Regions from separate parts of the Homo sapiens genome. Here region 1 is linked to region 2. The links come from fine-mapping of genetic effects on gene expression. A gene starts in region 2. The other region holds a variant in brackets. All regions are shown on one strand. Distances are between the middles of the regions.

The links. PIP is the estimated chance that this variant, and not a neighbour inherited with it, causes the effect. A credible set is the group of variants that fine-mapping cannot tell apart.
Region 1: its variant is the best candidate, but not a certain one, in a credible set for the expression of TRIM32 in whole blood (INTERVAL, PIP 0.52).

The regions. Positions count from the first base shown.
Region 1 is chr9:116,718,244-116,722,638 of GRCh38, reverse strand. All of the region lies in intron 16 of ASTN2 (astrotactin 2), which reads left to right. Among named protein-coding and RNA genes, the nearest start is that of TRIM32, 33 kb to the right of the region's middle. The variant G/A (reference allele first, on the strand shown) is at 2,333.
Region 2 is chr9:116,685,106-116,689,500 of GRCh38, reverse strand. It overlaps TRIM32 (tripartite motif containing 32), which reads right to left and starts at 2,196. Exons shown (of 2, transcript NM_012210.4): 1 at 2,120-2,196. All of the region lies in intron 16 of ASTN2 (astrotactin 2), which reads left to right. RefSeq lists enhancers at 1,720-1,769, 2,210-2,529 and a silencer at 1,940-2,139.

The DNA of each region.
Region 1 (4,395 bases), 33 kb before region 2:
TTCCCCCATTACAGGAGGGAAACCTTAACTTACAGAGGCAAAAGGCCAAGAAGATGGTATTTGAATCCAAACTTCAGCCCAGTTCTTCCTTCACCCTAGCTCTGGTGTCCCTGGATATTAGAAACAAATGCCCTAGCCTTCCCAGGTTTCATAATGATGGGACCCTGGCCACTTTTATGATCTGGGGAAACCACTGGAAATTACTGGAAAGCCAAGGGAGATGGGGTGAATGTGCCTGATTAAAATATTTCCCATGAGGAGTTTACTTTACTCTCATTCCCCTAAGTGTTTCTAAAGGTACATTGTGTGGGAAAATAAAGTCATAGTTATTCATTGATTGTCTGAACATTTCCCAACTGCTTTTTCTCTGTATTTTTTTTTGTGTGTGCGTCAGATGTTGTGGCACCAAATAAAGAAGATATAGGCTCTGTTCCTACGTTGTTCATTACCAGCATGCCTTAGTATCCCAATATTTCATCATTTTTGTTACAGACTTTTAAAAATCCACTGGTAGACAGCTGGGAAGAGGGAGGAGGCCAACATTTCCAGGCTGGTTGGAATACCCAGTCACTATCATATTATGCTCTCTAGCTTTCATGTGCCAATTCTGATCAACTAGGGAATGGCTTGTCTAGAACACTGTGTGTAAGTTATTGGGATCATTGAGATGATCAGTTGGTAATGTCTATTCTAGACACAGAAAGGAAGTATAGTGGTCTAGATCCTCTGTATTTTCTTCCCTGTAATAGGGCAAAAATAAAAGCTAGAATAACAGACCTAGTTTTTGATGTTGATTCCAGAGGGGGCACTGGGCATGCCAATAACCACTGGTAAGATCTCCAGGCAGGAAGGCAGAGTTTTATATCACCAGGTGGGAATTCTGAGCTTTCCAGTAGTCCGTAGGGGACTGGAACACCGAACAGGTCAATAAGGTAGAATCTAATGCAGGAAGAACTGGGCCTTAGGAAACAACTAGAGCAGCCAAAGTCATCCCTGGAAGCTCTAGGTTCCAGACATGATTAGCATGGAAGCTGTTTAGCCTGTCAGGTTTCTTTAGCCATCACCTCTGCTCCCGTGCCATTCCCCCAAGCAGTGTGTGAACTTCTGAGTCTCTTCCTCTAGCATAATACTTTCATTACATGCTTCTGTGCTCTTGATATCCCTGTATTTTGAAAAAACTACCTTCTTCCCACTGGGGCTCCATTTCACCCTTTGACTTGATATTCACGCATTCTCCCTAGCTGTGATCATGATACATGAGCTTTATATCATGATGAGGGTTCACTGTATAAAGTCACCCTTCCTGTGGCTACCTTGGATAAAGACTTTCTCATTTGGAGATAAAGCACAGGTTTTACAATCAGATGGATCTCAATTCAAATCCCAGCTCTACCTCTTCCCAGATGTGTGATCTTGAGCAAAGTGATTCATTCTTTAAGATCAGTTTTTCCATATGCAAAATGCAAAGTCATTGTATAGATGGAATAAGAAAATAGAGCAATGGATGGACCCATCCAGCTCTGAGTTGAGGGCCTAATTATCTTGATCCAACCCATGCCCTCCACCCAAGGCTGCCACATCCACTTCGATTACTGTGTTCCCAGGTGTGTATGTTTGTGTGTATGTATGTGCGTGAAGGCACACATGTGTGTGGGCAGGGGTGGGGCTTGCTAATTTGCTCTCATCCCTTGTCATCGTTGTGACCCAGGATCAAGGGCAGAGGTAGATTGTCCTGGGATTGGGAGGGGCCTCAGTGAGTTTAGCTACAGGCTTGGAGCCAGTGAAGGGAAAGAGCTGTGGAACTGGACTGGGGAGATATCAAAAGGAATCTGTAACTTTTATCATCCCCTGTCATTCTCTACTTAGGGAGGATAGTGATAGATGCAGGAATTAGAAATATAATAAGTTTTTTGAATTTTTAATTGCTTCTTTTTTATAGAGAAACTGACTATGGAAGGTGACAGATGTGTGTATGTGAAAGAATTGTTCATTCTGTGTGTGTGTGTGAGAGAGAGGGAGGGACAGAGAGCTAGAGCAAGAAAGAGAGGAAAAGAAAGGCAGAGAGAGAGAGAGAGAGAAAAGAGGGGAGGGGAGGAGGAGACAGAAAAACAAAGAGAGATAGACAAAGGCACACCAAAATCCACAAAGAGAAATGGCGAGATAAAGAGAGGCTAGAAGTGAAAGAATGCTATGCAATTAACATGTCTTTTCCAAGTGTACTGCCTAGGTGACCCCTGTGGAAGGACATTCTCTATGTGAAGTTTGCACTGCTCCTGAGTTTAGATTGGGAGAGTCCATGGTATAGAAATGTCCCCACAGATAAATACATGTC[G/A]CCACTTTTAAAAGGTGTCTTATCTCTATTATCATTTTCCTAGACTGTCCAAGGGATTGCATTTCTGCACTTCCATTTGAATTACAATGTGCTTTTGAATGTCAGCTGAAACATTCCCAGACTACTTTTTAAAGGAGTTTTTGGCTGTTTAAAAGGCATCTCAGGGGTTGTGGGTGGAGGAGGAGAAGGGAATGATTATTCAACTGTCGCCTTTTCTTTGAGGACAGATGTGGCCAAGGGGCTGATGAGAGCTGGATAATTCTCCAGAGCCTTCAGTTTCCCGAGGGAACTTGCTTTTAAGATGGCAACAAGATATGAACGGAGTTGTTCTTAGGGTCTGAGACCTGCAAGGTCTTGGTTTACTTCCTCAGTGATTCAATATCCTGCGGACAGTTTTCGGGTTCCATCTTGCTTGACCTTTCAGTAGGCTTTGACAAAGTTGTCTGCTTCCTGTGTGAGGCACTTTCTGTGTTTGTTTCGGTGATACTAGATCTTCATGATTTTCTACTTCCCCTCTGGACTGTTGCATCTCTGTCTCCTCTGCAGGTTCATCCTCTTCTGCAACATTAGTAAGTGAAGTTTCACAGGAGCCTGTCTTATGGACCCCTCTTTCTAGACTTGTTTCTATGGTCATGATCTCTGTTGTAATCCCCACACTGATGAGTTCTACTTTATACCTCCAACATCAAGCTTTCCTCTGATATTTGCTATCATTCTAGTTCTCTTGCCTGCCCAAACTCCACTCCACACAACCTAATACTTTTCTAGTGTTCTAGTGAGAAGCACCATTATCTGTTTAGAAGCAGAACCAGAAACCTAGGAATCCTTCTCAACACCCTCTCTCAAGATCTGAGAGCACTGACTTCAAATTGCTTGATCCCAGGACAGTCACCTCTGAATCTTAACTCCTTAATTTTATCCAAGGTGAAAAATCTCAGCCTGGCTGCATTTGTCTGTGGTGGTGGGAGTTGGCTAACTATCCCTTCCCTCTCCCTTTGTACCTTAGTTTCTGAGAAGGTCTTCTGCTGATTTCAGCCACCCATTTCCAAACCATTTCAAGTTCTGTCAATTTTAATTCTCAAATAACTCTTAAATTTGCCCACTTTTTTCTTCCTCACTGTTGCCACCCTATTCCAAGTCACCATCATAGCTTGTCTGGATTCCAGCTTTGTTCTCTTGCCTGGTCAGCCTGCATCTACCCTGCCTCCCTGAATCCTAACCACACGGCAGCCCTGAGGATGTGTATTAGCCAGGATAACAAAACCAGAGAAACAGAACCAACAGGATGGATATGTAGCGAGAGACTTATAGGCAGATATATATATATATATGTACAGATACAGGTATAGATATGTAAATATAGATATAGATGATATAGATTTATTATAATAAATTGTCTAACATAATTATTGAGGCTGAGAAGTTCCAACATCTGCAGTCAGCAAGCTGGAGACCTAGGAGAGCAGATGGTGTAATTCCAGTGTGAATCCAAAGCCCTGAGAAGTGGGAGAGCCAATGCTATAGTTCCAGTCCGAAGGCTGGCAGGCTTGAGATCCAACAAAAGAAGATGTTTCCATTGGAGTCCAGAGGCAGGAAAAAACCAATGTCCTAGCTCAAGACATTCAGGTGGGAGGGTCAACCTTTTGGTTCTATTGGGGCCTTCAACTTACTGGTTTAAGTCCACTCACATTAAGGAGGACAATCTGCTTAGTCAGTCTACCAATTCAAATGTTAATCTCTCCAAAATCATCCTCACATACATAACCAGAATACTATTTGACCAAATAGTTTGATAACCCAGCCAAGTTAACGCATGAAATTAACCATTATAGGATGTTTCTAAAATAGAGATCCCATCATGTTATTCCTTGGATTAAAACTTCTAGGTGCCTTGTCACTGCCGTGAGGATAATTTGCAAATTCCTTCCCATGGCCTCAGGGCTCTAACAGTTCTGATCTGTCCTCAGCCAACCTCTTCAGCCCTGTGTGTCTCCGTGCTTTCTGCCGTTTTGTCATACTGACCTTCCTTCAAGTCCTAGAACAAGCTGCAATCCTTTTGTCAC
Region 2 (4,395 bases):
CTCATGTGTAAAACTGAATACAGTAGAGCCTACTTAGAAGGACTGTCATGAAAACTGAGTAAAGAAGTAGATACAAGACTAAAAATTACTAGATTTTGAGAACTTACTATGTGCCAGATCCTAGGCATGCTAGTTTACTTCACTAAATCCTCACAACAATTCTGTGACATTGGTCTTGTTATCATAACCCCATTTTACAGATGAAGAGCCAAGGCACTGGGTGGTTAAGTAACTCATTCAAGGCCACAAAGTCAGGAAGAGATAGAGCTAGGACTTAAAGTCAGGAAGAGATAGAGCTAGGACTTGAACCCAGGGTATCTGACTCTAGGTCAGAGTGCCTCAACTTTGGCATTACTGACATTTTAGGCAGGATAATTCCTTACTGCGGGGGGGAAGGGCGTATCCCACACATTGTCAAATGTTTAACATAAAACATTATGTTTAATGTTTAATCTACCCACTTGAGGCCAGTAGTATCCCCCACCCTGTGACAACCAAAAAACATCTCCAGACATTGCCTAATGTCTCCTAGGAGACAAAGCCAGACTTGGTTAAGAACCACTGCTTTACAGTCTAGCACAGGACTAAATGCTCAATACCTAAGGGTTCCCTTTTTTTTTTCTGGTGGTTGTTGTTGTTGTTTTGTCTGTCTCCGAGCCCAAACACCTCACTCACAGAGCCACTGCCCCTTCAAGCTGTAATGGATCTTATATAGGATAAATTATTCCACTCATTCCCCTGGAGGTCTCACTTTCTATCTGCTATCGTAGCTTGGGGGTACAGGGAAAAAGGGCTTAGGCAGATGACCTTGAATAGTTCCACTTCTTCTTCCCCAAAGCCTACCACTTTCAGTGGGCCGGGGGACCGGTGGTCAGAATGGAGTTAGTGGCAATACCATACCTGCCTCATGATAACGGATCTTTGTTTAATAAATGAAGAAGATTCTGCCCTTCACAGGGATTACCACACTCCTTCAGGATTATCTGAACTGAAGATTTATCACTTTGTTCCTCAGCACCTGAACTCTGCTCATCTTCATATACTCATCCAGTTTCATACATTACTTTTAGGTCCTTGGGTCCCCTGAACTCCCTCTGTCTCCCATGCAGCGATTTAAGGAAAATCTCTTTAGCAGCCCAAGACACCAATCCACAAATCTACTCAGGGTCCTTTGATTTTATAGCCCAGTTAGGACATCTCCACCCCACGATTCAATCCTCTCCAAACCCTGTCCCCAACCCTCTTACAATTCCAAATTCCAATCTTTGGGGCTGTATATTGCAACCCTCGTCAATTCCTCACTCATATGCCCCAAATCCCTCGGACTCAGATCGTTTAATCCCTATTTCCAAATCTCTGCCACACTCAGCCCCGCACCTCAGTTCAACGCCCCAATTCCTCACCCCAGATTTCTGCTCTCCCTCAATCTGAGCCCCCATCTCCTGCATTCCATCGGGCACTGTGCTGCCCTCATACCCTGCTCCTTCCTCTTATGCACTGAATGTCATGTGCTGCCTTCACACCTCAGCCAGCTCCCTTCTTTCTGCTAACAAGATAGAGTCCCTCAAGAACTCACCCCACCCCCTCAATCTCACCCTCAGCCCACTCCGAAAACCCTTTCTCAATAGCACTTAGGATCGCCCTAGACCTTGCTCCTATCATCTCAGACCCTGTCCTTGCCAGATGCCTAGCGCCCCCAGATTTCCTCAAATCTCATCGGGGCCCCCCAGTTCCTTCATATTTCTGAAATTCTGCACCCAGGTCCCTCCAGGGCCCTGATTCCCTCCCATCTCCCACATGCTACACCCCGTTCCTCCTCAGGGCCCCGACATTACCTCATACCTCCCGAGATGCTGCAACCGCAAATCTCTTCAGAGCCCCTCGCTCCCCTCCCCCAGCTGCATCTCCTCGGATCTCCTCAGCCCCACGAATCCCTCCCGAGCCTGCCCCTCGCAGCCCCACCCCCACCCTAGTCCTGCCCCCCCCAGATCCGGTCCCCACACCCTGCCATTCGGGCGCGGCCGCTGCACGCCGGCACGTTCCCCCGCCTGGCCGCTGAGCCACGGCCCACGACTCCGGCCGCGGTCCCCAGTCCCCAACCCTCCTTCCCGCCCCCTACCTGACCGCCCGCGGCTCCGACGAGTCCACCGCCGGCAGCCCACCCGCCTGCCTCCCTCTGCGCACGCGCCGTTGAGCACCCCTTGCCGGGCGCCAATTCGCAGAGCTCCCTGTCCGTCACTGAGCCCCGCCTCCCCAGCATGCTGGGGCTTGTCGTGCAGCTGGCCCCAAGCGCGCGGGGCAAGGCGGCCCTGCAGGGGTGAGCTTTCCTCTGAGAACCCGGGGCCTTAGCGACACGTAATCCAGTTTTCCGTCTCCTTGGTGCAGATGAAGAAACCGACGCCCATGGGCGAAAGGGACCTGCTCAAGTTCACTCAGTAAGTCAGGAGATAAGCCAGAATGCGTATCTGACTCCAGTCTCAATGTCTACCCCTTCACAAAACGGTAGCCTCCAGGGTAGTCCTCAGCAAAGCGTTGGCACCTTACTGAATCTGTTTTTCCATCTGAGAAATGGGCCAACGGAAAAATCAAACTTCCATTCTGGGGAAGTCGAGAACCGGGACTCCCTAGGAAGGGCAGTGCTTTGGCCTCATGTTCTGTGCTCTGACAGAGAGCTGCACTAGAGACAAGTTTATCCATGAACACATTGCTCTGTAAAGGAATGTTTTGCCTACTCAGCTGGGAGGCCGACAGCAGAGGCAGACTTGGGGAGTACACTCTGCAGCCCCTGTCCCTGCAGACTGAAGGTACCCGGGAACCCAAACCAAGTGTAGTTTTGCTCGGGTGAAGGTGGAGGAATCTTACCAGGTGGGAGGTGATCTGGCCTGAGATTTGAGGGAATCTGGGGCACTAGGCATCTGGCAAGGACGAGGTCTGATACAGGACTGGCTGGCCACGACCTGCAGTCCCTGAAGTAGTTTGGGGCCAATCACCTACTCTCCAAGGTGACTATACTGTACAGCTTAGGAGCACAAAGGAGTTTGAAGTAGGATGGACTTGGATTTGAAATTCCCCTTAGCTATGTGACCCTGCACAATGATAAAACAATAAACAAAAACAATGACTAACATCTTTGAACACTTGCTGTCTGGCTACAGCTGAGGACTTCAGGTGCATAGCTCACTAAATCCTCATAAGGACCTAATGAGATAAGGCAGCTGATGGTTAACCTACACCTGTTGTGTAACCTAGGTGGTTACACAAGGCCACATATACCTAAGTGTTGGAGCCCAAATTTGTACCCAATTCTATCTGAGAACCCACTCTCTTAACCTTGTTTACTCTTTCTCCCCATTTTCTAAATTTCTAATTGAAGTTTGCCATGAAGATAAGCCAAGATTATGGTAGTTTGCACTTAATGATAACTATATTTGAAAAATTGTAATTAGCAGGTAGGGGATAAGGGAGAGGTAATGCCAAATGATTTCTCACTTAGACCAGTTGGGGAGACTTTGCACCCGTTTAAAATTTTTTTTTTTCCTGAAAACCACAGTTATCAGCCCAAAGTATAAATTTAGGACTGTTCATAGTCTTACATATATACATATTATATATGTGTGTATATGTATCAATACAGACATACTGATGTTTCCCTAATTACAGAGGAGTGTTAAAAATACTCCTGGGGATCTAGCTCAAGCAAGTGTCTTGAAAAAAAAAAATCTCTCTTCTCCCTTAAAACAAAAATCAGTGTTTGACTCTTCTTTAATGTTTATTACCAGTTAAATGAATTATTATACCTCTCACAAAATCTTAGAGTAGAATAAGCATTCTAGGAAATGCACTCAATTTTTATCTTATAGCTTGACATATCCTGGCACAATATTAGAATTCCTCTTACACAGAGGCATTTAAAAAATAATCTTTGTGGAGTGCTTTAAACACTCTTTATTCAGCATTTTAATGTAACAGATTTTTATTTAACACTTAAATCACCTATATCAGTGGAACCACCTGAGGAGTTTACCTTGCCCACTGCCTAGACAGAGCTGATTCATCAAGACAGGGGAATTGCAATAGTTAAAGAGTAATTCACGCAGAGTCAGCTGTGCGGGAGACTGGAGTTTTATGATTACTCAAGTCATCTCCCTGAGCATTTGGGGAACAGAGATTTTAAGGATAACTTGGTGGGTTGGGGGAAGCCAGTGAGCCAGGAGCGCTGTTGGTCAGGGATGAAATCATAGGGAGTCGAAGCTGTCTCCTTGCAGTGAGTCAGTTCCTGAGTGGGGGGGCCACAAGATCAGATGAGTGAGTTTATTGATCTGGGTGGTGCCAGCTGATCCATCAAGTGCAGGGTCTGCAAAATATCTCAAGCACTGATCTCAGAAGCATTTTAGG